Regions from separate parts of the Homo sapiens genome. Here region 1 is linked to region 2. The links come from fine-mapping of genetic effects on gene expression. Tissue or cell type: whole blood. Region 2 holds a variant in brackets; the other region holds the start of a gene. All regions are shown on one strand. Distances are from middle to middle.

The links. PIP is the estimated chance that this variant, and not a neighbour inherited with it, causes the effect.
Region 1: RPL9 starts here. The variant in region 2 is fine-mapped to the expression of RPL9 in whole blood (INTERVAL, PIP 0.92).

Annotation. Positions count from the first base shown.
Region 1 is chr4:39,450,951-39,467,394 of GRCh38, reverse strand. It overlaps RPL9 (ribosomal protein L9), which reads left to right and starts at 8,473. Exons shown (of 8, transcript NM_000661.5): 1 at 8,473-8,504; 2 at 8,955-9,001; 3 at 9,086-9,201; 4 at 9,714-9,809; 5 at 10,857-10,989; 6 at 12,451-12,531; 7 at 12,746-12,862; 8 at 13,170-13,271. The coding sequence starts at 8,956. The coding sequence ends at 12,852. LIAS (lipoic acid synthetase) reads right to left here and starts at 8,339. Exons shown (of 11, transcript NM_006859.4): 1 at 8,233-8,339; 2 at 6,433-6,605; 3 at 5,106-5,199; 4 at 3,790-3,870; 5 at 2,193-2,349; 6 at 2,053-2,110. The coding sequence starts at 8,277. It overlaps KLB (klotho beta), which reads right to left. Exons shown (of 5, transcript NM_175737.4): 5 at 15,862-16,444. RefSeq lists enhancers at 7,812-7,861, 8,232-8,526, 8,722-9,472 and a silencer at 8,242-8,291.
Region 2 is chr4:39,482,913-39,499,356 of GRCh38, reverse strand. UGDH (UDP-glucose 6-dehydrogenase) reads left to right here. Exons shown (of 12, transcript NM_003359.4): 12 at 1-602. Among named protein-coding and RNA genes, the nearest start is that of LIAS, 32 kb to the right of the region's middle. The variant C/T (reference allele first, on the strand shown) is at 7,729.

The sequences.
Region 1 (16,444 bases), 32 kb after region 2:
AAAAGTATGAACATACAGATGTTCATACATGAACCATTATTAAAAAAAAAAAAGCAGACCGTTAAATACTATGTACACAGTGGTTAAAACACACCTGTAGGCAAACTGAATAAAATTTCAAATTATATATAGTAGACTTTTAAACCTAATTTAAGTAGGTTTTAGAAAAAGTAAATAATTGCAAGAAACTAAAATATGAAATATTAAAACATTAAATATAAAACTTTACTCATTGGAAAGTAAATTGAAGTATTTCTTATATAAATGTGAGTATTATTTGATTGCTTTAATTTTGATTTCTTTAAAAAGTCATCAAATCATGCTCTCCTCCCTTCCTCTAGGCAAATATTTCACAAGTGCTACGGGTTTTAAAAACTATTTTCTGGGTTGCTGAGTCATGAGCTTTGTTAAACGAAGTACGAGCTAAACATTAATCTTCCTATTTATATTGTGGCTATATCTATTCATCCAAGTATTATAATGTGAACTGGGTCACAGAGCTGTTCCCTTTGACACCAGCAAAAACGACTGAAACAGCTGACACATTTTTTCACAAACCCACTGGCAAAGTGTCTGGAGTTGTTCCCTGAAAGAACAGATGTAGAAAAGACCACATGTACACCCTTATCATGAATATAAGAGATATTCAAAGAACATATCCTATAATTTTTTTTTTTTAAATAAAAACAGGGTCTTGCTCTGTTGCCCAGTGCATCATAGCTCACTGTAACTTTAAACTCCTGGGCTCACGCAATCCTTCTGCCTCAGCCTCCCAAGCAGGTAGGACTATGGGCACATGCTACCACATCCAGCTATTTTTTTTTTTTAATTTATTTTTTGTAGAGACAGCATCTCCCTATGTTGCCCAGGCTGGTCTTGAACGCCTGTCCTCAAGCAATCTTCCTGCTTTGGCCTCCCAAAGTGCTAGAACTACAGGCGTGAACCACTGTGCTTGGTTCTATTGCTTTTTTAAACTGAAAGCTGAGACCCACTGAAGCTTGTAAAATAAACCTAGTGGATTGCAAACAGATTTTTCAAAAATGAACTATAGTAAATAGAAAATAGAAAATACTAGGGAATCATTTAAAAAATTTACTAAGTGCGCTTAGGTGCCAAACTAGTACTGAGCTGTAGAAAATTAGAATAATCTCAGCACTTTGGGAGGGCGAGGCAGGAGTATTGGTTGAGGTCAGGAGTTTGAGACCAGCCTGGGGAACATAGCAAGATTCCGTCTCTAAAAAAAAATGTAAAAACATTAGCCAAGCGTGGTAGTGTACCTGTAGTCCCAGCTACTTGGGAGGCTGAGGCAGAAGGATTGCTTGAGCCCAGAAGTTTGAGGCTGCAGTGAGCTATGATCATCAGGCCGCTGCACTCCAGCCTAGATGACAAAGCAAGACTGTCTCTTAAAAGAAAAAACAAAACAAACCCAAAAAAACAGGCCGGGCGTGATGGCTCAGGCCTGTAATCCCGCACTTTGGTAGGCTCAGGTGGGTGGATCAATTGAGGTCAGGAGTTTGAGACCATCCTGGCCAACATGGTCAAACCCTATCTCTACTAAAAGTACAAAAATTAGCTGAGCTTGGTGGCGTGGGCCTCTAATCCCAGCTACTCGGGAGGCTGAGGCAGGATAAATGCTTGAACTGGGAGGCAGAGGTTGCAGTGAGATGGTGCCATGCACTCTAGCCTGGGCAAAAGAGCGAGACTCCATCTCAAAAAAAAAAAAAAATCATTACTAAGAAGACCAGGTTTATACTTTTTAAAGAAAATTATTCAAAGTTTAGACTAATGCTCTAATATGAGGGAGGGATTCTATGGGCTAAAGGTCTATGGGTAAGTTCATGTCACTGAGCCCCTAAAATTCTCTGCAAATATGTATCTGTACATACAAATATGCTTTTTCCAAAGAAATGTGTACATAATTTCCAGTGAATTATCAGAAAACTATGAAACTCCTCAAAAAGTGAATAATCCCTGTTTCAAGGTAATGAACTTAAACTTAACTCATATGGGTCCAAAAAGGTCCTTAAATTACACAAATGCAAAAATAAGTACCTTTCCTTTAAATATGATACGGTCTTTGCAATGTGTTCAGCTCCCCCATCAGGCATATCTAGAAACAAAAGAATCCACTGCTCAGGATGATGTCATCATTTAGAGCCAGTTTCTGGTAGAGGCCATGATGACACACTAACCATCTCGATCCACAGATGTCAGGACAACATAATCCAGACCCCATTCTGCAATTGCCTTTGCAGTATTGTAGGGCTCACTGGCATCCAGTGGAGGAGGATTTCTTGCAGTCTTAACAGAACAAAATCTGCAACCTCTTGTACATGTGTCACCCATCAACTAGAATAGAAATGTTACAATTTAAATGAAATAGACAGATGACCCTTAAGGACATAATGTTGAGAGAATAAAGCAAGTTGCAAAGAATGCATACAGTTTGGTTCTGTTTATAAGAAATTTGAAACATTCAAAACTAAATGATAGTCAAGGAACATAAATATATGTGATAAAACTAAAAAGGGAAATAATAAACTCAGCAATAAGAATAGTGTTCAGGGGAAAGGGGATGGGATCAGGAAAGGACGCAAAATTTAAATTTAAAAACAAAGCAGGGTGCAGTGGCTTGCTCCTGTAATCCCAGCTACTCTGGAAGCTGAGGTGAGAGGATTGTTAAGAGTCTGAGACCAGCATGGGCAACACGGTGAGACCCTGTCTCTAAAAATTAGCTAGTGTAGTGGCATGTACCTGTAGCCTCAGGTATTTAGGGAGGCTGAGATAGGAGGATTACTTGAGCCTAGGAGTTCGAGGCTGCAGTGAGCTATGACTGTGCCACTGCACTCCAGCCTGGGTGACAGAGTGAGACCCCCATTTCTTAAAACAAAATAGAAACACAACTGAAAAATGGGATTCTAATATACAGTTTAGGGGGTACAGAGGGGTATTCAAAGATAATGCTAACGTTTTAATCTCAAACTGGAGGTATGAGGGTGTCTGTTGTGTTATTCTTTATAACTTACACAGTTTATAAGATACTTTTTTTTTTTTTTTTTGAAACAGGGTCTTGCTCTGTAGTCTAGGCTGGGACGCAGTGGCATGATCATGTCTTACTGCAGCCTCAACCTGTTGGGCTCAAGTGATCCTCCCACCTCAGCCTCCTCAGAAGTTGGGTATACAGGCAAGTGCCACCATGCCCAGCTAATTTTTAAAAACTTTTTTTTTGTATGGACAAGGTTTTACCATGTTGCCCAGCTGGTCTTGAACTCCTGGGTTCAAATGATCTGCCTGCCTTGGCCTCCCAAAATGCTGAGCTTACAGGCATGAGCCACTGCACCCGGCCTATGAAGATACTTTTATATCTATTCAATAATAAAAAAAGATGATTTTAAAAGACATAAAATATATGACAGATCAATGTACAGGTCTCTATGGATGTAAAAACAGAAAGCACAGCTCCTTCTTGTTGAATATGTTAAACAGAAAACACATAAAAAGCTAAGCAATCATGAATAATGTTTCCAAACATTGATAGGAGAGGTATCTCAAGGCAGCACGTGATTAACTATCACATAAATGAAAGAACCAATAATAGATTTATTCAGAGAAGGGTGAGATTACAACAGGTTGGATTATTCCATCAGGTTTTTTCTTAATATTTTTCATAAATGCAAATGTAATGAAAAATCTGACCAGAGATTCATAATGCACATTTTTAGGAGGAAGACACAAAATAGTCCCTTTCAGTTTCTAGACTAAAGCCATAGAGGTTGAGGCTGGCCCTACCATGATCGTGGCTGTGGCGGTGGCATATTCTCCACCTCCCCAACACTCTCCAATATTGGGACATCGAGCTTCCTCACATACCTGTATGCAAAAGGAAATGGAACACCATTAGGTTGACAATATCCACCAACTAAACAGTTGGTGACTGTGATTAGACATTTTAAACTTCTCATTGTTTACAACATATTTTTGAAGACATTCACTATTCAAAAATGCTGTTAAGACCAAGTGCGCTGGCTCATGCCTGTAATTCCAGCACTTTGGGAAGCTGAGGCAGGAGGATTGCTTGAGCCCAGGAGTCTGGAACCAGTCTGGGCAACATAGTGAAATCCTGCCTCTACAAAAAATCAAAGTTAGTCAGGCGTGGTAATGTGCACCTATACTCCCAGCTACTCAGAAGGCTGAGGAGAGAGGATCACTTGAGCCTGGGAGGTCAAGGCAATTGTACCACAGCACTCCAGCATAGACAACAGAGCAATGCCCTGTCTTCAAAAAAAAAAAAAAAAGGCTGTTAAACTGCCCAACTCTATATTAAGATTAGAGTGTAGTGAGCATGTCCTATAGAGGTGTACTCCCTTACATAATTATGTAAGAATGGACAGACTTGAATTTTTATTTTTTAAGATGGAGTCTCACTGTCGTCCAGGCTGGAGTGCAGTGGTGCCATCTCAGCTCACTGCAATCTCCACCTCCCAAGCTCAAGTGATTCTCCAGCCTCAGACTTCCAAGTAGCTGGGACTACAGGCTCACGCCACCACGCCCAGCTAATTTTTTTTGTATTTTATTAGAGACGGGGTTTCACCATGTTGGCCAGGCTGGTCTTGAACTCCTGACCTCAGGTGATCCTCCCACCTCGGCCTTCCGAAGTACTGGAATTATAGGTGTGAGCCACCGCACCTGGCCAAAATCCAATTTTTAAATTAAAAACTTTACGAATGTATATACTTCATATGTGCAAATAAAAAAGTCTGAAAGATTATATACTGAAGAGTTAAAGGTAAAGGAGTATGGTTTATATATGGCATTGCGTATGTGACATACCTTCATATTTAATTTTATATTCTTTCCAACAAATCATATATCTAATTTGCAATATAAAACAAACAAAGCCTTGTTTCCAAACTCGTAGGGCAAAAAATCTCTTTGTTTGCCGGAAAAATGATTCTAAATATATTTCCATTCCTGGTAGTAATGTATCACTTAACATATTTACTTTCTTTGCTATTATTTATATATTTATTAATAATTTTTAAGTTATATAAACGTAGAAACATGGCTTTTGGTGAAGAGGGATAGTTTACACTTTGACAACTTACTGTATGGAGATTTAAATTCCGCAAAGTATTTTTCAGTTTATTGTAATTTTTCCCCATGGGAATCTCTGTCTTTAGCCATGGAGGTAGTCTTAACCTAAGGAAAGCCAAACATAACTATCTATTAACAAATATGCTGCCAAATAATTACACAGCTTTGAAGTTAATTTCTTCTATTACAATTCCTAGTTAATAATTTTTTCTATAACCTTAGAATAACTCTTATAATTTCTGTCATAGGAGTAAGAACACAGAATCAAATTTAGCCTTGCTCAAACCACTTTAGAAAACACCAATAATGGCCGGATGTGGTGGCTCATGCCTGTAATCCCAGCACTTTGGGAGGCCGAGGTGGGCGGATCACAAGGTCAGGAGTTCGAGACTAGTTTGGCCAATATGGTGAAGCCCTGTCTCTACTAAAAATACAAAAATTAGCCGGGCGTGGTGGCAGGCGCCTGTAGTCCCAGCTACTTGGGAGGCTTAGGCAGAAGAATCCCTTGAACCCAGGAGGCGGAGCTTGCAGTGAGCCAAGATTGTGCCACTGCACTCCAACCTGGGTGACAGAGCAAGACTGTCTCAAGAACAAACAAACAAAAAGAAAACACCAATAATGGAGTGTAACAGGGCGCTATACTCACGTCTACCTTTTTTGCAAAGGCAGAGTTACACTATTCTAATAAGAGAATGAGCAAGTTTTCAAATATCTCATCCCTCATGAATGATACTGCCAAAAAGTACTCTACTTGTTTAGACTGAGGAAAGATCACAACTGTGCACTGTCTGCTCTACATTCTAGATTTTATAGTGGTTACTCAATGGAAAAAAGATCTAAAATTTGGACTGGAGACTGTGTATCCTTGGTTCTCCATGACTTCCATCCACTTGTGATATAGAAGGAGCAGGATTAAGTTATCTTTCAACTCAATCTACCTTCTACATAAAATTCCATCATTCTTTTAAATTAAGGCAAGGTATCCATAGGTCACATGTAAATTGACTAGGAGAAGCACAAGTTAGATCATCAACAGCTACTAACCCAGATCTAACAGACTAGTAGCAAAGCAGTAATCTTTACTCTGAAGAAGTTGGATGCTGGGTAGAAAATGGGGAGATGGCAGTGTAACATAGTAAGGGCAAGAGAAAAGAGAAAGATTCCAAAAATTTCATCTGCTTACTTGTTCTATCTAGTTCTGTTATCACATCTTTCTAATGATTTTTAGCTAAATTTAACAAGTCTGATATTAAAAACAGATTCTAGGGCTTGGTTATATCTGAAAATAATGCACAATAAAGGAACGGGACGTTAAAATTATCTCAAATTTTCAATTACCTTTCTCCTTTCTGGCGTTTTAGGTTTCCTTTATATTCATCCCAGGTGCTCCTGTCTGCAAGATCACCAGATACAAAATCTTGAAGGTCTGGTCCATTCTGTAGGAGTTCCTTTTTTTTATCTGGCAAGGAGCTTAACGGTCTGACTGGGCTGCAAAAATATCTCCCAAATACCTAAAGAAAGAGTTAATTATGACGTTTATTTAGTGGAGTCCGTAATAATTTAGTTTTAACCCATCATAACACCTAAACGGAAGGGTAAAGCCAAAAAAGTGATTCAGAAATTATGTCAAACTAGGAGCTCTAGTATTCTAGGGCATTAGAATATAAAAGATGACTGAAGGAACCAAACCTAAAAGAGAGTAAGAGTTGACTGTTTACTACTGAGTTTAGAATAGATTTGGAAATCTGTTTTTTTTTTTTTTTTTTTGAGACGGAGTCTTGCTCTGTTGCCCAGGCTGGAGTGCAGTGGCGCAATCTTGGCTCACCGCAAGCTCCGCCTCCCGGGTTCACGCCATTCTCCTGCCTCAGCCTCCTGAGTAGCTGGGACTACAGGCGCCCGCCACCACGCCCGGCTAATTTTTTTGTATTTTTAGTAGAGACAGGGTTTCACCATGTTAGCCAGGATGGTCTCGATCTCCTGACCTCAGGTGATCCACCTGCCTCGGCCTCCCAAAGTGCTGGGATTACAGGCGTAAGCCACCGCACCCGGCCCGAAAATCTCTGGAACTAACATATATCACACTTTCATGTACTCCACCTACCAGGAACTAGATGTTTGTCTTTCAACAAGATTGAACTGCAATAACTGAAGAAGGTGCCACAGTTTAAAACTGTTCTGGTCCTGACTTGAATCAGGGGCGTTTAAAGTGAAGTGTGCAATAAATCTCTCGAGCTTTGAATAATTGTTGAAACGTAGGTTAATAATGCCCAATTAGTTTCAGACAACTGGAAGGTTAAAACCAAGCCTAACGTTTTTACTTTCTTTTTCTTTTTTTTTTTTTGAGATGGAGTCTCGCTCTGTCGCCCAGGTTGGAGTGCAGTTGCGCGATCTCGGCTCACTGCAACCTCCGCCTCGCGGGTTCAAGCGATTCTCCTGCCTCAGCCTGGCGAGTAGCTGGGACTACAGGCGCACGCCACCACGCTCAGCTAATTTTTGTATTTTTAATAGAGGCGGGGTTTCACCATGTTGGCCAGGATGAACGTTTTTACTTTCTAGGTTACATTGTTTCTGTGTTTGAACGTGGCAGTCAAGAACATAAGAAATCATGGTATTCGGCTTTTACATCTGAACACAAACGTGTATGAGATAGCCAAAACACTACAAAATCCACGAGTCTGCACATGTATCTCAAAAGAACCTTCGACAACTCAAAGAGTGCCTGTTAGGGTGTTGCACGATTGCTACTGCACTTCTCAATGTCTGCCGCTGAAGCCTAGCGGACAGGTTTGTGTTCTCTGCGGCTAGAGTGGTGTCTCACACACAGTAAGAGTCCAAGACAGAATAGCTATGTGGGGTGCTCACTGCAGTGCTCCATAAATATAGGGTACAAACCACTCTAAGCAGAAAATAAGTCCTCGGTGCTGGCCCAGAGAGACTTGCAAACAAACTGATGCCAGAGACTCTATATCATGGGGCTGGCGGGATAATTACATGAGATTACACGAAAAACGTTTAAAACTGCCGTTGGCTAGTAGTAAATGTTCAGTAAATGCACTGGCCTTTATTATTGGGCATGGGCGCTCTGAAGGGATAGGATCCCCCCACCCCACGCCCAAACCCGTTCGCCCCGCCGCTCACCCGGGGCCCCAGGGTGCGGGCTGCATCCCCGCAGCGTAGAGACATTTCCTCTTTAGGACTAGCGCAGTGCAGGGGTTGAGGGATCGCTAACTCCCGGGAAAGGACAGGTCGAAATTACGTCGCTCCATTTATGACAAGCAGCCAAGCTGCTCCACGATTGGCTGCTTTAGCCTTACGTGCGTCGCGCACTCATGACGCAATACGCAGGCCCCTTACGCGATACAAGTACGTAATGACGACAGACGTTCTTTCTTTGCTGCGTCTACTGCGAGGTAAGGATGTTTCTGTGCTCGTGGGGGTACTGGGAATCTGAAACCATCTGCTCTGGGAAAGGCTGCGGCGCGGCTCCCACTCTCGGAACCTTGTCCTGTTTGTCCCCCAGCTCGGCAAGCGCCATATGAGCCTGGCGGCGCCAGATGCGAATCCTGTTGTGGGCTTTTTGGCCTATTCCCGCCCCTCAGTCTTGCCGGGATGGCACCGCCCGCATAGGACTTCCAGGGTTGGGCTGAGTGGGAGTTCGACTGCTGGGCCTCGTAATTCTCGCTTTGGGGCTGCTCCTTCCAGGCTGGGACACACTGGGGCCCGCTGTCGGTCTCCCGTCCTCCGACATCTTGTCTGGAACTTCCGCCTGGCAGTCTCCAGTAGGAGTGGAGCTCTGTGCGGCGTAGTTTGGTGGAAAAACGGGCCTTGCGTCGGCCTCACCCCCAGTGTTTGTGTTTCAGAATGAAGACTATTCTCAGCAATCAGACTGTCGACATTCCAGAAAATGGTATGAGACTTGATGTCTTTTACTTACATCTTTACTGCACGTTCCAAGCGTTGTGTGGCCTGACGAGTGTGTTCTCTCTTCTAGTCGACATTACTCTGAAGGGACGCACAGTTATCGTGAAGGGCCCCAGAGGAACCCTGCGGAGGGACTTCAATCACATCAATGTAGAACTCAGCCTTCTTGGAAAGAAAAAAAAGAGGGTGAGGGTTTTTCTTCTGATAATTCAGTTGCTCGTTGGAAGGTGGTTTATAACAGCATCACATTTGGTTGCTTTAACAATTTTCGAATTAAGGTTCAGTGCTTCAGCTTTAAATGTTGCTGTCCAGAATACCAGCCTGTTCAGTGAAATTGAAAAACCAGATTCTGAACACAGCCAATTATATAAAGCTCAAATGTAATAGTGGTCATCAGTGACACGTCTTAATGGTGTTAGAAGTTTGGTTTATTTTCCTAGTGATTGCTTTGTAAAAATCACAGGAACCGGCAGTAGGTCATTTAAACCTGATGATTTAATTTTCCAGAAGGGAAGTTTGTTGCAACTTCTACAAAGCTTAACTGTTGGGAGGTTTTATAGGTGGTTGGATTTTTCCAGTTGAAAACCATGTGCTTTGATAAGGGTTAATTCTAGAATCTTAAAGTAATTCGGTAAGTGGTCTGTTGTCTTTTAAGCCTGCATATTTCTGGAAAGAATACATTTTTTGTTCTGTTACAGCTCCGGGTTGACAAATGGTGGGGTAACAGAAAGGAACTGGCTACCGTTCGGACTATTTGTAGTCATGTACAGAACATGATCAAGGGTGTTACACTGGTAAGCAGATGTATCAGACTTCCTTGTTTTGGAAAGGGAGGTTTCTCAAACCTGTGCTTTATACAGCGTAAGTGTCTCTTTCAGAGAATGGGTCATGTATTTTATTTGGTGTAATACGCAAGAACTTGGCAAAAATAGGCATCTGTGGGTCTTTAAGCGATAGAGCTGAGAGCAAAGACCAGATGGGTACAACATGTTTGTTTTTTTCTGTTGTTGGGTTTTTTTTTTTTTTAATCAAGGCTGGGGTCTCGCTATTTTGTCCAGGCTGAGCTCAAGTGATCCTCCCACCTTGGCCTCCCATAGTACTGGGATTGCAGGCATGAGCCACCATGCATGGCTAGATGGGTACAACTTTTAAAAAGTAGGCTAATGATGAATTTTCATACCTTCCGAATTCTTTAAGATAGGAAATCTACAGTTGCAGTACTAGTTGGTAGTCACATCTCACCATCAGGACCCCTTGTTGGGATAGAAAAAGATGTAGTTTCTGAGTTTTCTGTCTGCTGCCATAATGTATGTCATTATTCTTTCCAACCCACCGTCTCTCCCCTCAAGATAAAAAGTTCATGCTGAAATGGTTTTCTTTGCATTATACCTTCTAGAATGCACCTGATAATGGCACCCTGTACATCTATTATAAATCTGTTAAGATTCCCCCATCTACCCTTGCTCTTAGCCTTAAGTTCCTTGAAGGCAGGGGGCCTGCCTTTGGCTTGGTGGTCTCAATTCCTGCCATGTGCTGTACCTTAGTAACTCAGTAAATGTTAGTCTAATGTCTAAGATCAGGGCTTTGGGGTTCTCATTAAAAGAAGGCAGCATTGTTCATTGAGGGCATAAGAGCTAGTGAAATAAAGCCTCCGCAAGGAGCTTTACAGTCCACTGAATAGACAGAACAATGTTTATAAGGCTTGGTTCAGGTGACAGTTATTAGAAAATCTTGGCAGTGAGTGTTACGTTTTAAAATAAGTATAAGCATCTTAGAAAATTTTAAAACTATTAAAAATATTCCTCAGCATTGCTAATAGCTTGCTTATTTATTTAACATAGGGCTTCCGTTACAAGATGAGGTCTGTGTATGCTCACTTCCCCATCAACGTTGTTATCCAGGAGAATGGGTCTCTTGTTGAAATCCGAAATTTCTTGGGTGAAAAATATATCCGCAGGGTTCGGATGAGACCAGGTATGTGCATACCCTCAGACAGAATTAAGAAATTTTTCCTTCATATTTTTTTCCTCCTTTTCCACTCCCAACTTCCATACTTTAGTTGGCTGTTGTTTTGTGTTTGTGCTGAGTAAAACCAGATTTGTTTTAGAATTATCTCTTGATTACACTTAAACTGTTGGTGCTACTTAAGGGTTTATATCATTATGTCGATTACAATTTCAGAAAGTTGATACATTGGAGTAGCTTGCAGTGGTGGTTGTATTTAACTTGGCAAATGAAATCTTTTAAAAAGACTTTAAATTTACAAAAGGTGTATATAATGGTGTGTATTTATGGAGCACAATGTGATGTTTCAACACATGCATATTCTGTGGAATGACTAAATCAGGCTAATTAACACATCCATCACTCCATTTATTTCTTCGTGGTAAGAACCTTTAAAATCTAAAGAGAAAACTACATGAGTAGTGGTTAATAGCCTAGCGTAAATTTCAGCTCTCACTGTCCACCTTGGGCATGTCATCTCTCTGCAGCTTAAAATTGCAAACATCTTTGATTAAATGAGTTAAAGTTGAAAAACAACAATGCATGCGTAATACATAGTAAACACAGTAGCTTTAAAAAAAATTTAAAGCTTAGTGCTTTTTATTTGAGGCAGGGTCTTGCTCTGTTGCCCAGGCTGGAGTACGGTGGCGTGATCTCAGCTCATTGCATCCTCCACCTTCGTGCTCAGGTGTTTCTCCCACCTCAGCCTCCCCACTAGCTGGCACTGCAGGTGCCTGCCACCACATCCAGCTGATTTTTGATTTTTTGTAGAGACTGTTTCGCCACGTTGCCCAGGCTGATTTCAAGGAATGCTATGGTGCCTGGCCCCAGCTAATTTTTAAGTTTTTTGTAGAGGCAGGGTCTTGCTATGTTGTCCAGGCTGGTCTTGAACTTGCAGGCTCAAGCAGTTCTTCCCCCTTGGCCTCTTAAAACATACCTGGCTCGGCCTCTTGATGCATTTTGATTCCATTGGGGTGGGGAGGGGTGGGAAGAAGGGAGATTCTTAGTATCAAAATAATGGCTGTCCAGAAATACTCTGATACTAGCTATGGTCAGCAACATTTAATGAAAACCCTTATGTTAAAAATAAACCCCTGCCTCCTGGCTTCAAGCGATTCTCCTGCCTCAGCCTCCTGAGTAGCTGGGAGTATAGGCACGTACCACCACACCCAGCTAATTTTTTGTATTTTTACTAGAGATGGGTTTCACAGTGTTAGCCAGGATGGTTTCGATCTCCTGACCTCATGATCCGCCCGCCTCGGCCTCCCAAAGTGCTGAGATTACAGGCGTGAGCCACTGTGCCCGGCCTCAAAATCTTAAGAAAAGGTTCTTTTGGTGCATGGAGTTTTACATGGAATAAATTAGTGCCTCTGCAATTTAAATATTTTTTACACAGATTTGATGCTGTGCAAATGCCCTCTCCCCTTTTAGGTGTTGCTTGTTCAGTATCTCAAGCCCAGAAAGATGAATTAATCCTTGAAGGAAATGACATTGAGCTTGTTTCAAATTCAGGTTTGTATGTTTACTATGTCTAACTATGCCTACAAGATTTTGTCTAAATCTTGTTTAAAATACAGTATTTTGCTAATTTTTATTTGATTAGCTTTTTAAATTGTGAAAATAAAAAGGTCACATTCTGAAATTTTAAGTACAGCACATAATGAAATACTTTCTTTTTAAGATGGGTTAGGCTGATGTATTAATTGCTTTATCTTCACTCCTATAGCGGCTTTGATTCAGCAAGCCACAACAGTTAAAAACAAGGATATCAGGAAATTTTTGGATGGTATCTATGTCTCTGAAAAAGGAACTGTTCAGCAGGCTGATGAATAAGATCTAAGAGGTAAGTTCTTACAGTGTCTTAAGTTTTATTACTGCTCTAGTTGAATGAAGCTCTTAATTTACTAAAAGACTTAAACTGAATTTGTAGTAATAGAAAATGGAGAGTTAAGCATTCTGGAACACAGTAAATTTGACAGAATAAAAGATGGAATTGGCATGCATTTTACTACGTATAGTTTACTATGAATCAGTAAGTCATAGTCTTGAGGTATGTTTTAGATTATTTAGAATAGTACAGAAAAAAGATTAGTACTTTCCTGGGCAAGTGTATTGATGGGGATTTACAGATTTTTTTTCTTTTTTTACAGTTACCTGGCTACAGAAAGAAGATGCCAGATGACACTTAAGACCTACTTGTGATATTTAAATGATGCAATAAAAGACCTATTGATTTGGACCTTCTTCTTAAACCGGTTATCCTTTTTAGCTAGTTTTTTTCCCTCGTGGAACAAGGAGCTTTAATCTGGTTCTTGAAGGAATAGCAAGGATATATTTTAGGCAAGAGGAATATTGTACCAGTGACAGGCAAACATGAGGCCATTCATCATTGCATATAGAACTTTAGGAATACCCTGAAAGTGTCTAAATTTGCTGAGGCATGAATTTGAATATTTGGTAAGGCAAATGTTGTCTTAGTCACTGGTGGAGAAACAGCTGAGGAGTAGAACAGAGTGATACAGCATCAGTTAGAATTAGAAGGTGTAGTTGGTTTGGTTCATGGTCTCAATAATCTTGTCCTTTACCTCAGCCATTTACTTCCATACCCTAGAACTTGTTTTTAAAAATTGATAACCCTTCCATAATCTCTTAATTCCATGTGTTATACTTTAAATATGGTACAAGGCCACCATAACTAGACTTAGGTCAACATGGTGACCCCCAAACCTTTGTGAATTCTACATCTCATTTGATGGAAACTGCAATTTCTAAGGCAAAATTTAACATTCATCCTTGATCAAATGCGTCAGGAAAACGTACTAAGTACCTTCATTGTAAGGTATGGTCAGGTACTTTATCAGAAAAAGTAAATATAAGGACAGAGGTCACGATCAGTTGGCATATATGTTATCTTGGATCTTACAATGTCTTACTCAGTTGCCCAGGCTGGAATACAGTGCCATAGTCATAGCTCTGTAACTTCAACCTACTGGACTCAAGCAATAATCCTACCTGCTTCAGCCTCCTTAGTAGCAAGGACTACAGGCAGGCACCGTCACATCTTTTTTTTTTTTTTTTTAAAGTATGGATGGGGTCTCATGTTTCCCAGGCTGGTCTTGAACTCCTGGCCTTAAGTGTTCCTCTTTGGCCTCCCAGAGGGCTGGAACTACAGGCATGGGTCACCATGCCCTATACGTCTTAGATCTGGATTCAAGTACACTAATTGAACATACATTAAGGAGTCTTGTTGTTTGATGACTATTTGGTTAGGTTTTTAAGAAATTTGGAGGAAATCATAAATCTCGGATTTGCTCAGAAATAACGGATGGGGTTGTAGGCGATGAATGGGATCAACGTGAAGTAAGATCACATCCTCGAAAGGTTGGGAAATATGGGTCCATTAGATACAAATTTTTTACAATGTAGAAAATGAAACAAAGACCTGCGAAGTTCACCTGGATTATTGTGACAGTCAACTGGTCATCTTCCTCTCCTGTCTATTTTCAGCATCAGCCAGGGTACTGATTTTGAAATGGATTATAGCACTGTTTCAAATCCTGCAACAGGTTTTTTTTCCCTTTTTTCTTTTTAAAATAGCCTCCCCATTGTACCTGCAGCCGTTTTTAACTCAATTTTTCTGACTTCTGCGCTATAGCTGAATTGACCTGGCTAATCCTCTATACCAAGCACTCTGTCATTAAGCATTTAAGTTGTCGTTTTCCCTTTGGAATGCTCTCAGCTGAGCTGTGTGGCTAATTTCACTTACCTTCAGGTCTATTCAGTGAATCCTGCCTTGACCACCGTATTAAAAATAGTAGACCGGCTCCTTAAGCTTGTCCTACTGTCTCGTTACCCTTCTCCACTTGTTTTTGTCAATAGCATTTGTAATTTTAATATTTACAATTGGTTGTGTATTGATGATGTGTTTTTTTCTGCTAGGATGTAACCTTCACAAGGAGGTAATTTTGTACTCTGGTGTATTCCAGCTACCAGAACAATGGCATGTAGCTGTTTCCTGGATTGCCAAGGAACTCAGTAATAGCAGTGGGACTGGAAGAGAGAGATTTTGGGAAGGTATTGACAGGATTTCAAAACAGTATGAGGCTTGTGGGAGAAATTTCCAAGTGGCAATATTCTAGTGGGGTGGAGATGCTCATGAGAGGATCAGCTTATGGGGAGTAGCTGCTGTGGGAGTAAATGAGATTTCTTTGAGCATGAAATGGACTGGCATGCTGGGTCTGACCTTCATAAGGTAACTTAAGAGACTGTAGCTAAACAGTGATTTTTTTTTTTTAATAACTTGGGTATAACAAATGAGCCTAGTTCTCCAGGGAAAACTTAATTATTGTCTTCTGTGTCTACTATGGATAAGCACTTGTGCACTATTTTTGCAATTTTTAGATGTAGGTGTCCACATATTTTTGAGACGGGGTCTCTGTCACCCAGGTTGGAGTGCAGTGGCGTGATCTTGGTTCACTGCAACCTCTGTCTCCCAGGCTCAAGCAGTCCTCCCACCTCAGCCTTCTGTGTAGCTGGGACCACAAATACGTGCCACCATGCCTGGCTAGTTTTTTGTAGAGAGGGTTTTGCCACGTTGCCCAAGCTGGTCTCAAACTCCTGGAATCAAGCAATCCGCCCACCTTGGCCTCCCGAAGTGCTGGGGTTACAGGTGTGAGCCACCACACCTGAGCCACATTTTTTGAGAAAATATACCCAGAAGTAACATACCAAGTTGGTGCACAACTAGGCAGAAAGGGATTCAGGGGAGGCAGTCTTGGGGCAGAGCCCATTTACAATGCCAAACCCATTCACATTCAACAGTTCTTAAAATTGACCAGGTTGTTAGTTGAATACAAGTGGTCAGCATGAACCAGTTTATTTGGAATAAATTACATTGAAAATTAAACATGTAGTCACACTGTACTGGCCTCATTTTCCAGAGGCTCTTTAAATATAGTTGTGATTCTCCAGGTTGTTACATTGAATATACGATAAACACGTTAGATTTTTCACAACACATCTCAGAAAAGCTTAAACTCCAAAGATCTTACCTGTTTGCTCCTTTCAAGAGTTATCAGTTTCTGGTTGACCTTTGATGGTTTTTAAGGAGTTTATGATAAACCTGAATATTTAGTATGATAGAGCATGAGCCAGATTAAATGCTTAACCTAATTTGCTGTACATATTTGCCAGTGGTTAAAAAATTTAAGGGTTTTTGGATTCTTGTGCGATGATGGCTTAAAAACTAGTAAAATAATGCCCAAGTGGCAGAGAAGGAGGACTCTCAGTACTGGGTTAGGAATTTTATTACTTAGGGGAGTTTATGGTAAACCAGCAAGTTAGAAAAGGGGGGCATGCTTTAAGCATAAGCTCTTAATGTGAAAGAGACAGTGAAGGTTAATTTGTGAACTGTGAGTACGAGATA
Region 2 (16,444 bases):
TGTTTTAATAAAATGTGTCACTGATTTTTTAGCTCAAAATCATCACTGTTAATTTCCAGTCACCCCAAATATGGTTAAAAGATTTTTTTTTTAATCATGAAGAGAAAATTAGTAGCATTTCTTTCTCTCCCCATTATTTATTGGTTTTCCTCACTAATCTTTTTTTTTTTAGTCCAAAAGCCAAAAATATTTATCTTGGTTTTACATTTTAATTTCCATTCTTAATTGTAATTTTTTTCTTTAAATAAGGAAACCAATATAATCTCATGTATAAAAACTTAAATATTTTACAAGTTACATATAGCATCATTCTAAAATAAGAATTTTTTTTGTTTTCTGTCTGCTTTTTTCTTATGTCTCTTGTTGAGTTTTATATTTTCAGTGGTTATTTTTGCTTGTGTTAGATCATTATTAAAATATATCCAATGTCCCTTTGATACTTGTGCTCTGCTGAGAATGTACAGTTTGCATTAAACATCCCAGGTCTCATCCTTCAGGAATTTTGCAGTTCAATGAGAAGAGGGAGACAAATATAAAGATGAGGACAGAAGCATCTCTACAGATGAAAATTACATAAATAAAACATTCTCCATCAACAACTATATGGGTGTAATTTTTGTCAATTCACAAGTAACTGAGTCATGACAGCCTGACATTAGATGGGAAAAAAATGACACCTCACTTTTTAGAGAAAATGGTATATCATTCTCTCAAATGATGCAACAAAGGGAGAGAATTTAGCAAATAAACATTGGCAAACTGTAGCCCCTGGGTCAAATCTGGCCAGCCATGAGTGAGCTAAGAATGGTTGTTACATTTTTACATGGTCATATGTTAAATGGTTTGACCAGGCATGGTGGCTCATGCATGTAATCCCACCACTTTGGGAGGCCAAAGAGGGAGGATCACTTAAGGCCAGTTTGAGACCAGCCTGGGCAACTTACTGCCTAGGCAATAAGTAAGACCCCATTTCTACAAACAAACAAAGCACAAACATTTTAAATGGTTATACAAATCCCTACATAATATCCTCAACTTTACCTCTTGGCTGGCAAAGCCTAAAATATTTCCTACCTGGTCCTTTAAGAAAGTCTGCATACCTCTGAAAGAGACAAATGCTAGAGTTCGAACATAAGGTGAGCCTTTACTCATAAGACTTTGAAGTGAGGATGAGTTTATTAATTAGAATTTGCTTTACATTTCTGCTTGAAAATATTATTGTATTCTGCTTAGTAATTTTATATTCTAGTAAAGGCATTGTAAGTCCAAAGATGTATGAAGATGTATGCTAAAGCAGATAGAATTAGGCACTTGTCCTGTCCAAATGAGGAATTTTTAAATTTTTAAATGGTTTTTTTTTCTATTTTTAGACATCTAATGCTATAGATTCAAACTTTTTCTACTCTTGTCTAGATATGCCAAATGCTGGCAAAAAATTGCTTTTGTTGTTGTTGTTGTTCTTTTTTTTTGAGACAGAGTCTTGTTTTATTGGCCAGGCTGGAGTGCAGTGGCACCATCTCGGCTCACTGCAACCTCTGCCTCCTGGGGTTCAAGCCACTGTGCCCAGCCTAAGAATTGCTATTTGGATGTTGCCGAATTTGTAAAAACACAGCAATAAGCAAAATCCTTTTGAACAAAGAAGTCCTGAGTTCATCTCATTGGTGGACTGAAGCAATTCTGTAGCAAATAAATCCTTTGAAAGAGCTCCAAAAAGAAGAAAAAAAGAAATAGGTACTTGTGCCGGGTGCAGTGGCTCATGCTTGTACTTTGGGAGGCTGAGGTGGGGGATCACCTGAGGTTAGGAGTTCGAGACCAGCCTGGCCAACATGGTGAAACCCCGTCTCTACTAAAAATACAAAAAAACTAGCCAGGCGTAGTGGCACGCGCCTGTAATCCCAGCTACTCAGGAGGCTGAGGCAGGAGAATCACTTGAACCTGGGAGCAGAGGTTGCAGTGAGCCAAGATGGCGCCATTGCACTCCAGCCTGGGCAACAAGAGCGAAACTGTCTCAGAAAAAAAAGAAAAGAAAAGAAAAGAAAGAAATAGGTACTTGTTTTAAATTGCAAGATGTTTCAATGCCTGGAACTGATAAGTAAACAATTATTGTAAGATATAATTACTGGCCGGGTGTGGTGGCTCATGCCTGTAATCCCGGCACTTTGAGAGGTCAAGGTGGGTGGATGCTTGAGCTCAGGAGTTCAAGACCAGCCTGGGCAACATGGCGAAACCTCGTCTCTAAAAAAATACAAAAAATTAGCCATGAGTGGTGGTGCATGCCAGTAGTCCAAGCTAACTGGGAGGCTGAGGTGGGAAGATCACTTGAGCCCAGGATGTCAAGGCTGCAGTGAGCCGAGATTGTACCACTGCACTCTAGTCTGGATGACAGAGTGAGACCCTGTCTCAAAAAAAAAAGAAAAAAGTTACTGGTAAATGGAGGAAAATGGGCAAAAGAGGGCTCATAGAGCCAGATAAACTTGCTGTTTGAAATGGGAGGAAAAACTCAGTAATTAGGCATGTAACTTAACAGCAATTTGAGACTTTCATGTGAAAAGTTGAAAGAAGGTGGTTAGTCTTTTTTTCTCTCCTCAACCAGTTAAAGACAATTGTTGTTTTTTTTAATCATACAAACTTTCAGTTTTTAAAAATATATATATTTAAATTTTTATACCTGATCCCTACCACCAGGAAAAGTTTCAATTTTTTATTAGCTAATATATTTTTGGTAGGGCAGAGGAATATTGGTAAGATTACTAACTGTACTTAAAATTGAAAATAATAGGCCGGGCGCTGTGGCTCACGCCTGTAATCCCAGCACTTTGGGAGGCCGAGGTGGGTGGATCACCTGAGGTCAAGAGTTCGAGACCAGCCTGACCAACATGGAGAAACCTCGTCTCTACTATAAATACAAAATTAGCCGGGTGTAGTGGTGCATGCCTGTAATCCCAGCTACTCAGGGGGCTGAGACAGGAGAATCGCTTGAACCCGGGAGGTGGAGATTACGGTGAGCCGAGATCATGCCATTGCACTCCGACCTGGGCAACAAGAGTGAAACTCCTTCTCAAAAAAAAAAAAAAAAAAAATTGAAAATAATATATGGACATGGTAAAAAGACATTCACATAGATACAAAAGGATAAACAAAATCTCTCTCCTACAATTTTCTCTCCTACAATTCCACTTAAGACTTCTTGGCTAAGCTACCTGAAAGCCTTATTTTTCCCATCTGTAAAACAGATAATCCATCTCCAACTCGAAGAATTGTTATAAAGATTACATGAGATGAATGTTTACACAAAGATCTTCTTGGCACAGTGACTGGCAGGCAATGAGCACTCCTGTTAGCACCATAACAAGCTGGTCCCACTGCACCAGAACCACGTGTAGGCTCTGGAATCACTAGAAGGACAGTAATTAACACTGAACATTTTGGACAGGCACTATGCAAAGTCCTTTAGGTGCATTTTCTCATCTGTTCCTCACATAAGTCTTTATTTCATTTCATTTTTTACTTCCCCATGTTATTCTAGGACTCATTTAAGTCTTTTGAGGTAAGTTCTGATCCTGTGATTCAGACTACAGGCAGAAGGCTCGGAAGATTTAGCAGCTTGCTCAGGGTCACACCTTAATAAGTGGCAGAACCAGAATTCAGGACAGACTATGTGACTTTTCTCTCCAGCTTTTAATATTAGTCATTCTGCTTCTCTGGATACATAAAGGTGCCCAGGTAAAAGTCATTCTTCTCAAATGCAAAGAATTAACCAGGCATCAGGCCAATACTTGTCATGCAGACTTAAGCCAATACTTTGTTATGCAGTACTTGTCACTGGTGCCTTATCTTCCTATTTCTCAAGAAAAAGCTAAAAATCTGGATTTGGTGGTGTGGTGTTTTTTGTTTTTTGAGACGGAATCTCTGTTGCCCAGGCTGGAGTGCAGTGGTGCAATCTTGGCTCACTGCAACCTTCACCTCGCAGGTTCAAGCTATTCTCCTGCTTCAGCCTCCTGAGTAGCTGAGATTACAGGCACCCACCACCATGCCCGACTAATTTTTGTAAAAATCTGGATTTTTATATAAAATCTCTCAATTTATAAGTGTTGGCACGATGTTTAAAAACAAATTTTTACACTACACACACCAAAATATCTGTGAAGGGTAGATCTAGATCAAAGGTTGCTAGTTTTTAAAAAAAGAAAACCCTAAATTCTGACATAATTTTAGATTTACAGAAAAGTTGAAAGAATGGTACAAAAATGCTGTATACCCTTCTTATTCACTAAATATTAATATTATATTTGCTTTGTTTTATCCTTCCTGTATACATCACACATAAAATTTATATTTATATAAATTTTTTTCCTGAATGATTTGAGATTAAGTTGCAAGGCCAGGTGCGGTGGCTCATCCCTGTAATCCCAGCACTTTAGGAGGCTAAGGTCAGGAGTTTGAGACCAACCTGGACAACATGGTAAAACCTCATCTTTACTAAAAATACAAAAAATTAGCCGGGCATGGTTGTGCGCACCTGTAGTCCCAGCTACTTGGGAAACTGAGGCAGGAGAATCATTCAAACCCGGGAGGCAGAGGTTGCAGTGAGCTGAGATTGTGCCACTGCATTCTAGCCTGGGTGACAGAGCAAGACTCTGTCTCAATAAAAAAAAAAAAAAAAAAAAAAAAAGAGAGTAAGTTGGAGACATGATTCCCTTTTCCCCTAAATACTTCAGGGTTATCTCAGTTTCTGTGGGTCAGGAATTCAGGAACAGTTTAGCCAAATGGTTCTGGGTCAAAGTCTGGTTGTAATCAAAATGTCAACCAGGGCTTTGGTCATCAAAAGGCTTGACTGGGGCTGGAAGATTGTCTTCCAAGATGGCTTGCTCATATGACTATCAAGTTAGTGCTGGCGGTTGACAGGAGGCCTCAGTTCTTTGCCAACTGGATCTCCTCATAGCACTGCTTGAATATCCTCATGACACAGCATAGCAAGTTGGCATCTTCAAGAGTGAAAAAACCAATAGAGGACAAGACAGAACCTCCAATGTCTTTTATTATCTAGCCTCAGAAATCATACCCCATCATTTCTATAATATCCTATTGTTTAACCAGATAGCTCTATTCACTGTCTGAAGAGACATGGATATCAGGAGGTGATAATCACTGGGAGCCATCTTGGAGGTTGGCTATTGGAGTTTTATTTCCCAAAAAATAAGGAAATAGGGCAGGTGCAGTGGCTAACACCTGTAATCCCAGCACTTTGGGAAGTCAAGGCAGGAAGATTGCTTAAGCAATCTGGCAAAACCCCATCTCTACCAAAAATACAAAAATTAGCCAGGTGTGGTGGTGCATGCCTGTGGTCCCAACTATTTGGGAGGCTGAGATGGGAGGATTGTTTGAGGTGGAGGTTGCAGTGAGCTGAGATCTCACCACTGTACTCCAGCCTGGGCGACAGAGTGAAACTGTGTCTAAAAAACAAAACAGGCCAGGAGCCGTGGCTCATGCCTGTAATCCCAGCACTTTGGGAGGCCAAGGTGGGTGGATCACCTGAGGTCAGGAGAGTTCGAGATCAGCCTGGCCAACATGGTGAAACCCCATCTCTACTACAAATACAAAAATTAGCTGGGCGTGGTGGCTGGCACCTGTAATCACAGCTACTCAGGAGGCTGAGGCAAGAGAATTGCTTGAACCCGGGGGCTGAGGCTGCAGTGAGCAGAGATTGTGCCACTGCACTCCAGCCTGGGTGACAGAGCGAGACTCTATCTCAAAAACAAAACAAAACAAAACAAACAAACAAAAAGATTGTTACTCCTTTAAACTTTCATCCACTAGTTTTAGCATCTACTAATGATTCCTGTCTGAATCAATTATTATAACAATGGTAGCTTCCAGTTTTTGATCAAGTTTGAATCTTGCTTTTACCACTTAGTAGAAATGGGACCTTGGCCCAGATAAGTCAACTTTCTTAAGTCAATTTCTTCATATATAAAGCAAGGATAATACAGTACACTTCAGAAGGCTGTTTGTGAGGATTACATTAGATAAGAGTGTAAAACACTTGGCACAGGGCGTGGTACACAGGAAACACTCCAGAAATGTTAGGGGGACTTTGTTGGTTGCCCATCCAGAGGATCCATTCCCCTTTCTTCCTTCCTAACAGAGCCCCAGTGTTCAGATGTTCATCCCCACCTGCTTACCTCACCTTCAGATCCAAGGATGGTCCGTCTTACTTTTGTTTAACAAATTTCCCTTGCCAATGATTTTTCTTGCCAATGATTGCTTCAGAAACAACCTTGTGACCAATGCTGGCGATTGAGAATTGAGGGGTAGTTTGTTAGTAAGGCTCCTGGGACACATTCCTGAAACAGCTACAAGGAAAGTTGCCCTCTCTTCTCCTTCTGGATGTTGTGGCTGGATATGATCCCTGGATAACAGGTATTTGGTTGTGACAGCCACAGCCACCATCCTACCAGACTGGGGTGAAGCCAACACCAAAGATGGCAGAGATAATAGAAGGAAAAACCTAGATCCTCGATTACTTTGTTGAGTCCCTGAATCAATGAACCTTGAAGACTACTTCCTGTTTGGTGACATAAATGTCCTCCTTAATGACACGATTGAATAGGACATTTCTTATTTGAAGCTGAAAATACCCTACTTTTAGAGGTATTGTATTATCATCATTATTAAGAAGAACGGCCAGTCACAGTGGCTCACGCCTATAATCCCAGCACTTTGGGAGGCCGAGGCAGGGGGATCACCTGAGGTCGGGAGTTCGAGAACAGCCTGGCCTACATGGTGAAATCCCATCTCTACTAAAAATACAAAAATTATCTGGGCATAGTAGTGGGCACCTGTAATCCCAGCTACTTGGGAGGCTGAGGCAGGAAAATCACTTGAACTCGGGAGGCAGAGGTTGCAGTGAGCCGATATTGCGCCATTGCACTCCAGCCTGGGCAGCAAGTGCGAAACTCAATCTTGAAACAAAAGCAAAAACAAAAATTAGCTGGGCATGGTGGCGGGCGCCTGTAATCCCAGCTACTTGGGAGGCTGAGGAGGGAGAATCACTTGAACCCAGGACGCAGAGGCTGCAGTGAGCCAAGATCGCACCCTTGCACTCCAGCCTGGGCAACAGAGTGAGACTGTCTCAGAAAAAAAAAAAAAAGAAGAAGAAGAAAAGAGAAGAACAAGCACCAATGGCTTTAGACAGAATAATGAAATAGCATCTCAAGGAAAGAATCAGAAGGTTGCACTGGGTGCGGTGGTCACACCTGTAATCTCAGTAGTATGGAAGTCTGAGGCTGGAGGATCACTAGATGTCAGGAGTTCCAGACCAGCCTGGCCAATATGGTGAAACCCTGTCTCTATTAAAAAAATACAAAAATTGGCCAGGTGCGGTAGCTCACGCCTGTAATCCCAGCACTTTGGGAGGCCAAGATGGGAGGATCACCTGAGGTCAGGAGTTTGAGACCAGCTGGGCCAACAGGGTAAAAACCTGTCTCTACTAAATATACAAAAATTAGCTGGGCATGGTGGCAGGTGCTTGTAATCCCAGATACTCAGGAGGCTGAGGCAGGAGAATGGCTTGAACCAGGGAGGCGGAGGTTGAAGTGAGATTGCGCCATTGCACTCCAGCCTGGGCAACAAAGCAAGACTCCATTTCAAAAAAAAAAAAAAAATTAGCTGGGGGTGGTGGCAGGCACTTGCAATCCCAGTTACTCAGGGAGGCTGAGGCAGGAGAAT[C/T]GTTTGAACTGGGAGGCAGAGGTTGCAGTGAGCTGAGATCACGCCACTGCACTCCAGCCTGGGCAACAGAGCAAGACTCTATCTCAAAAAATAAATAAATAAGTAAGTAATCAGAAAGTTGCTAAAGGAAAATTGCTTGAACAGCAGCTGAAATGGAAGTGAACACATGGCCTCCAACCTCCTGGGGACACCCAGAAAGGGTCTGAGGTTCTACAGGAGGTATGGGATAGGGGACATGGAGGAGGGTTCAGTAAGACAACTCAGCTGGTGAAGGTAAGGTCTAATTGTAATGTGTAAAGTAAGCTCATTTGTACTCACCTTTAAGTAACTCTACTTAGAATATGTCAAATTAGGGCCGGGCGCAGTGGCTCATGCCTGTAATCCCAGCACTTTGGGAGGCTGAGATGGGTGGATGACCTGAGGTCAGGAGTTCGAGACCATCCTGGCCTACATGGTGAAACCATGTCTCTATTAAAAATACAAAAATTAGCCAGGCGTGGTGGCATGTGCCTGTAATCCCAGCTTCTTGGGAGGCTGAGGCAAGAGAATCGCTTGAACCCGGGAGGTGGAGGTTACAGTGAGCCAAGATCGTGCCACTGCACTCCAGCCTGGACAAGAGCAAAACTCCATCTCAAAAAAGAATAATATTTCAAATTAGGTGTCTGTGCACCTACTATAATGCAGATACTGTGAGATGCTAACAGAGGGCACAGATGAATGAGAGAGATCTTAAGAGAGGCAGGTACACAAATAACTGGCCCAACCAAGAAAATAGCCATAAGTGATTTTAAAAAATGCTGTGTGGACACAGAGGTAAAGATTACTCCAGCTGAGGAAAACAGGAAGCCTTCCCGGTGGCATTTGAGGTGGATCTTAATAAAGAGACATGATCTTAGTAGGGGAAGGGTGGGTTTGAATTGGCAGGTCCATGGCAGAAGCAATGGGAAGAAAAAGATGGAAGCAGGAAGATTCAGGCTGCTTTTAGGGAAAGCAAGCTGTCTTTTTTTCTGGAGTTGAAGGGAGTAGGAGGAGGAATAGCTGGAGAAGACTGGAAGGTTAGACCAAGGGCAAATTGTGGAAGGCCTTGAACTCTACACTGAGCTTGGGCTTCACTCACTTGTCAAAATAGAGACACTGATGGTTACATAACATTGGGAATGTACTTAATGCCACTGAATCGTACACTTCAACATGGTTAAAGTGGGCTGGGCATGGTGGTTCATGACTATAATTCTAGCACTACTAGGTCCTGACTTCTTACATAGTGTTATCGGGACCTTGTCTTGGCCTGGGCTGTGTCTGTTACTGCTTTTTGGGATGAGACAGCCTAATACAGGAAAACTTGCTTTTCTCTTTTAGTTTTTATTTCTTCTTTCTCTAATTTCTGCCTCATTCCCCCCTTTGATGCTTTTTATAAATGAAGTTTAATAGAAAGCATCACTATTATTTAATTCTTCATGGCAGCATAATTTTCTTCAGTTGGCAATGGCTGGTACTTAGAGCCATTAGTCGAGTGGTGGTTGTTTTGTCTACTAAGTCGATTGAATGCTTCTGACAAGGAGGGGTAAGAGGCAAGGGAGTATTAAGCAACCACTTAACGTAGCCAGCACCACTTCTGTTCATGTTTTAAATCCACCAAAAGACGAAAACCAACCTCTGAAGAGGGAGTCTGGGGACTCTTTTGGTTTTCAGGTTTGGGTTTCAGGTATGAGCTTGGGATTATAGCACATAGAAGGCCGGCCATCTCTTGGGTCACAGACTGAATAGGTTGTCTGGTTGTGCATGCAAGTCCCCAGATGGCTTCCTGTTCACTCATAATACGTATAGTACAATAAAGTCTTATCTATTGTGTTTCTTAACCATGTGGTATGCATGCAGTGAGGGATTCCTCTATGGGTCTTTCTCTTTTTTCTGAGACGGAGTCTCACTGTCTCGCCCAGGCTGGAGTGCAGTGGCGCGATCTCGGCTCACTGCAAGCTCCACCTCCCAGGTTCACACCATTCTCCTGTCTCAGCCTCCAGAGTAGCTGGGATTACAGGCGCCCGCCACCACACCCGGCTAATTGTTTGTATTTTTAGTAGAGATGGGGTTTCACCATGTTAGCTAGGATGGTCTCGATCTCCTGACGTCTTGATCCGCCCGCCTCAGCCTCCCAAAGTGCTGGGATTACAGGCATGAGCCACCGCGCCCGGCCAGCAAAACAATTAATATTATACGGAAAGTTATTGGGCTTAAGATCTCTGGCTACATTTACTTCCCTGATGATGATTCTTCAAGCTTCAGCCGGTGCATAGACTAGTCAGCTTCTGGAGTGACTAGAGCAGGTCTGCTGTCTCTACTGGCAGCTTAGTTTTGTCGCAGGCTGAGTCGGGTCGGGTGGTCTGGGTCCTGGTGGCTGATCTACCGGTCTTGGGCCGCCAGTTTCAGCAGACTGTGGTGGATCTTAGGCACGATTCTCGCAACTTTAACAGCAGTGGGAGTGGACAAGATTACAGTATGGGGCCTATCTCTTATGGGTCCCAAAGTGGTTGGATTCCAATTTTTTAACCTAAAGAAAGTCCCCAGGTTTAAATCGGTGTGCTGGGTCTGTTAGACTTAACAGGTATTCTTTCATGTACCCAGCTATGAACTGTTTACATGGCTATCCCTAAGCCTGCATTTGCTTTCTCAAAGTTAGTTTTCCTAGCTCACGGAGATCACCTCTAACTTGACCTATGATTAGGGATGGCCGGCTAAACAAAATCTCACAGGGCGAATACTCAGTTTGTTTAGTGGGGGTGCGCCTGACTCAGAGGAGGACCATGGGCAAGACTTGATCTAATCTCAGATAAGTCTCCTGGCAATATTTCTTCAGTAGCTGCTTGAGTGTCCATCCAGTTCATGCACTCCACTTTTCCTGAGCTTTGTGACTGGTAGGCCTTGTGTAATTTCCATTTTATTTTTAACAGCCGTGTTAGATCTTGAACTATTTCAGCTACAAATGCCAGTCCATTGTCTGACACTAGAGTTAGAAGCAGTCTAAATCTGGGAATAATGTCTCTTATCGGTACTTTAGTTACTTCCTGCGCCTCTTCTGTCCGGGTGGGGAAAGCCTCAACCTACCCTGAGAAGGTGCAGATGAACACCAACATGTACTGATAGCCTCCTGCTTGGGGCAGCTCGGTAAAGTCCAGAAGCAAGTTTTCACAAGGTGTGGCCTCTATTTCTTGAATTCCTGGGGGCCGGGTAGGCCCCTGCAGAGGGTTGTTCTGAACACAAGTTAGACATTGTTCACAAACGGCTCGGGCAATGGCAGTGAGTCGTGGCACACAGAAATGGAGTCTAAGTAGTGTCTCTAATGCCATTTTTAAAAAATATGAGTTATTTGATGGAATTGTTTTTACAAACTTAGGGGCTACCATTTCAGGAATGGCTAGCCTCCCATCTGAGAATTTCCACCATCCTCCTTCAATGTAATTTCTGGCTTCTTGGGCAAATTAGGCCCGTTTCATTTGGAGAATAATTTGGGACCTCTGGCAGGGGAGGCTCTGGGAGGAGAGGCAAAGCTAGGATCTCCTCTTTACAGTGCGGGGTAGTCATTGCTGACCGTTTTGCCTCCTTGTCTGCTTTTCTGTTTCCTTTGGCCTCTAGTGTTCCTGCCTTTTGGTGCCCTTTGCAATGCATAACGGCTACTTTCTTTGGAGCAGCCCATATAGCATTTAAGAGCTGTAGAATTTCTTCTTTGTACTTTCTTTGCCCCCTACAGTTAAAAGTCTTCTTTCTTTATATATAGCTCCATGAACATGTAATGTAGCAAAGGCATACTTATAATCCATGTAGACATTGACTATTTTTTTTTTTTTTAGACGGGGCTCGCTGTGTCACCCAGGCTGGAGTGCAGTGGCGCCATCTCGGCTCACTGCAACCTCCGCCTCCCAGGTTCACACCATTCTCCTGCCTCAGCCTCCCGAGTAGCTGGGACTACAGGCGCCCGCCACAACACCCAGCTAAGTTTTTGTATTTTTAGTAGAGACGGGGTTTCACTGTGTTAGCCAGGATGGTCTCGATCTCCTGACCTCGTGATCCGCCCGCCTCAGCCTCCCAAAGTGCTGGGATTACAGGCGTGAGCCACCGTGACTGGCCAGACATTGACTTTTTTTGTCTTTTGCTAGCAAAAGGGCTCTTGTCAGGGCTATTAGTTCTGCCTTTTGGGCTGATGTTCCGGTGGGCAGAGACTGTACCTCTGCTGCTGAGTTTAATGTTACTACTGCATACCCGGCTTGTCAGATCCCTTCCAGTACAAAACTGCTTCTATCTGTAAAGTATTCAACATCTGGGGCCCTGAGGGGTTGGTCTGTAAAATCTCTCTGGCTTGAGAACACCTTATCTACTATATCTCCACAGCAATGAAGGGGGCCTCCTGGTTCTGACCCTACTACTACCAGTGCCTGATTTACAGCCAGCCCTGGTGAGTTATCTTCAGCCTATACTCCAGGAATTTTAGTAAGTAACCGATACATTTCATTTACTCCTGGTTCTGGAGTCTTTTTTGCATATAGTCTCCAGTCCTCAGTCTGTGGGACAGTAAGGGTTAACATCATGGCCTTCAGCTCAGTTAGGCTCAAAGTCATACTTCCTTGTGGCCCAAAAGCAATCTGTACTTGGAGTTTTTGGAGTAGGTCTCTTCCCAGCAAAGGAACTGGACAATTTGGGAGGTATAGGAATTCATGTTGGACCTCTCGTCCTCCTATAACACACCTCCTTGACTGACAGGCCTTTTCTCTGAGACTCTAGTGGCTCCTACAATAGTTGTATAGTTCGTGATTAGTGGCCCTATAGGTCAGGTCACTACTGAGTGTTCAGCCCCAGTGTCTACCATAAAGTCCATTAGCTGGCCCGCAACTTCTAATGTGACTATTGGTTCCTGGGGGCCTAAAGAGAAGGAGCCCAGTCTGTCCCAGTCTTCATATCCTTCAGCCCCTGCCAGCCTGATTAGATCAGTATCTAGTTCCCCCAGGGTGCGGCAGCCCTTGGCAGATGGTCTCTTCATACCATGGCCCTGACTACTCTCCTCATTACCTTCTGGACACTCATCCTTCCAGTGTCCCTTCTTTTTGCATCATGTACATTGATCTCTCTCTAGCCTCGGCCGGCTCTCAGATCTCTGCCTAACTTGACCTCTTCCACATCCATGTCCACGTCCACATCCTCTTAGAATACTAGTTTCCCTTTCTACGAGGGCTGCCGCTAACAGATCGGCCCTTTTCTCAAGCCTCTGTTCTGCTTCCTTCTTTGCCTCTTGGTCACGGTTAACATACACCTCAGTGGCCACCTCTATAAGCTGGGTGGCATTCGTGCCTGTAAACCCTTCTAATTTCTGCAGCTTCTGTTTGATGTCACCCTGGGCTTGTCCTACAAATGCTGTGTTCACCATGTGCTGATTTTCAGCTGCTTCAGGGTCAAACGGAGTACAAAGCCGGAATGCCTCATACAGTCTTTCATAAAACTGGCTAGGGCTTTCATCTGCTCCCTGGAGCATCTCTGAGATTTTCCGTATGTTGATTGCCTTTTTCCCACCATTTCTCAGCCTTTGCAGGATTGCCTCTTGGTACCTCTGCAGGTGCTGAAACTGGGTTACATCATTTGGGTCCTCGTGTGGGTCTGCTTCTGGGAGGTGGCCTTGAGCATATGCCTGAGCGTTCATTGTGCCTGCTGGTACATTTGCTTCAAGCCAGTGGAGGGCTGCCTGAGTTATCCTCCGGTGCTCCTCAGTATTAAACAGCATCAGGAGGAGCTGTTTGACATCTGGCCAAGTTGGATTGTGTGTTAGGAAGATGGACTGCACCAGATCTATAAAGGCCTGAGGTTTTTCTGTGCAGGAAGGGGTATGGTGCTTCCAGTTTAGGAGATCAGTGGTTGAAAAAGGCTGGTAAATGAAGGTTCATTCCCTTCCCTGGATTTGACCTTGTTCATTATAATAGAGGGGGGTCCTCTTTTTTACCTGAGAGGCATTTGCATAACCTGAGTGCGGCCATGAGTAGATATAGGGGAATTGGTCCAGGTGTCCCGGCTGTCCTCCGACCCCAGTTACTACCCTAAATACATGACCAATTGCTTCCCTGCCACTCTTGCGTCCTGGGTTGGTTAGGGTGTAAGTTTCCCCAACATTTACGAGCCATTCTCTCATCCTGTGTCGGACTACTAGTTGCACCCTGGAAGGTGATCAGGCTCCCCTTCCCTCCTTATGGGACAGGTCCTGCCTTGGGCCCCAATACCTTACCGTGGTCCTGAAGTGCACTGACCCTGGAATCGTCCTATACCCCTTAGGTTCCGTTGCACTGTCAGCGAAGGGACACTGGGTCGCAGGAGAGCTGATCTCCCCTCCGGGTTGAAGTTCTCCTGATGGCACACCTGGGGTCACAGGTATCCCGCCAGTCTGGGGCTCCAGCCCCACAGGCAAAGGAGACAGCAAACCTGTCATCTCCTCTCCCGGCTGGCTCACCAAAATGTTGTAGGAATCAGAGGACCAAAGAGACCAAATGGGTGTTACAGGAGGATTTTTATTAAGGTGTATGCTGGCTCAGTGGATTCATATCCAAAAAATTGAGGCCAGAACAAAGACAGGGCTCAATTTTTATAAGAAAGCTTACAGAAGCAGAATAAAGACAGTTAATGAAACAGTGACAGGTCTCGTAATCTCTAGCATAGCTTGTGACCTTGCAGTTGCATTGAAGGAGAAACAGGAACTTCTAAAACTTGCAAAATATTTATGGGGAGGTGGTAAAGGGCTAAAAGAGGAATTTTGTTTTTCTTATCCTTATGTTGGGGAGTGCTGGGAGAGCCTCCAGAGCACATTCCTTTTGGGTTCTGACTTCTTAGATAGTGTTATCAGGACCTTGCCTGCACCTGGGCTCTGTCTGTTACTGCTTTTTGGGATGAGACAACCTAATACAGGAAAACGTGTCTTTCTCTTTTAGTTTTTATTTCTTCTTTCTCTAATTTCTGCCTCACTATGGGAGGTCGAGAAGGGAGGATCACTTGAGCCCAGGAGTTCAAGACCAGTCTGGGCAACATAGTGAGATCTCTACAAATAATAGAAAAAAAATTAGTGAGGAGTGGTAGCATGTGTCTGTAGTCCCAGCTACTCAGGAGGCTGAGGTGGGAGGATCACTTGAGCTTGGGAGGTCAAGGTTGCAATGAGCCGATTTGTGCCACTGCACTCCAGCCTGGGTGATGCAGCAAGATCCTGTCTCAAAAAAAAGGTTAAAATGGTAAAAGGAAACATTGAGGTGTTTTTTATTTTTGTAGTCACTTTTTTTTAACTTAAAAATTTTATTTATTTATTGTGTGTGTGTGTGTGTGTGTGTGTGTGTGTGTGTTTTTGACAGAGCTTCACACTCCTGTTGCCCAGGCTGGAGTGCAATGGTGCAATCTCGGCTCACTACAACCCCCGCCTCCTGGTTCCAGCAATTCTCCTGCCTCAGCTTCCCGAGTAACTGTGATTACAGGTGCCCGCCACCGTGCTTGGCTAATTTTTGTATTTTTAGTAGAGATGGGATTTCACCATGTTGGCCAGGCTGGTCTCAAAGTCCTAACCTCAGGTGATACACCTGCCTCAGCCTCCCAAAGTGCTGGGATTACAGGCATGAGCTACCACACTCAGCCGATTTTTTGTGCTTTTTTGAGATAGAGTCTCACTTGCCCAGGCTGGAGTGCAGTGGCACAATTGCAGCTATCACATTATTTAAAAAAAACAACAAAAAAAGGCCAGGTGCAGTAGCTCATGCCTATAATCTGAGCAGTTTGGGAGGCCACAGTGGGTGAATTGCTTGAGCTCAGGAGTTTGAGACCCACCTGGGCAACATGGCAAGACCCCATCTCTGCCAAAATGACAAAAAAAAAAAAATAGGCAGGTGTGGTGGTGGGGACCTGTAGTCCCAGCTATTTGGGGGGCTGCGGTGGGAGGATCACTTGAGCCAGGGAGGTTGAGGCTGCAGTGAGCCAAGATTGTGCCACTGCACTCCAGCCTGGGCAACAGAGTGAGATCCCATCTCAAAAAAAAAAAAAAAAAAAAGGCCAGGCACTGTGGCTCATGCCTGTAATCTCAGAATGTTGGGAGGCCAAGATGGGCAGATCATGAGGTCAGGAGATCAAGACCATCCTGGCTAACACAGTGAAACCCCATCTCTACTAAAAACACAAAAAAATAAGCCAGGAATGGTGGCGGGCACCTGTAGTCCCAGCTACTTGGGAGGCTGAGGCAGGAGAATGGTGTGAACCCAGGAGGCGGAGCTTGCAGTGAGCTGAGATCGCACCACTGCCCTCTAGCCTGGGTGACAGAGCGAGATTCTAGCTCAAAAAAAAAAAAAAGGCATGAACTTTGTTAGTCACTTTTTAGAGACTTATCCTAGCTTTCCATAGCATGTGGTCCCCAACTAGCTGTTATCATCACCACATACTGGGAGTGTGTTCAAGTTTTAGACCAAAAACTCAGGAAGAAATATATCATTAGTGTTTGCCTTGCAAAATAATATGTATAAGCAGAGGATAAGTTGGATACAGTGACCGCTTGCTCCCTTCTTCCCTTCCTTTTTCTTGAATACAGACATGTAAGAGACTACTCACTAGATAATGCTAGTAACATGGGAGATTATTTTAGGTGCATATATATCTTTCTTAATTTTAATAGGCATTTATTTTACGGGCATTAGAATAAACATAATTTATAAATTGCATT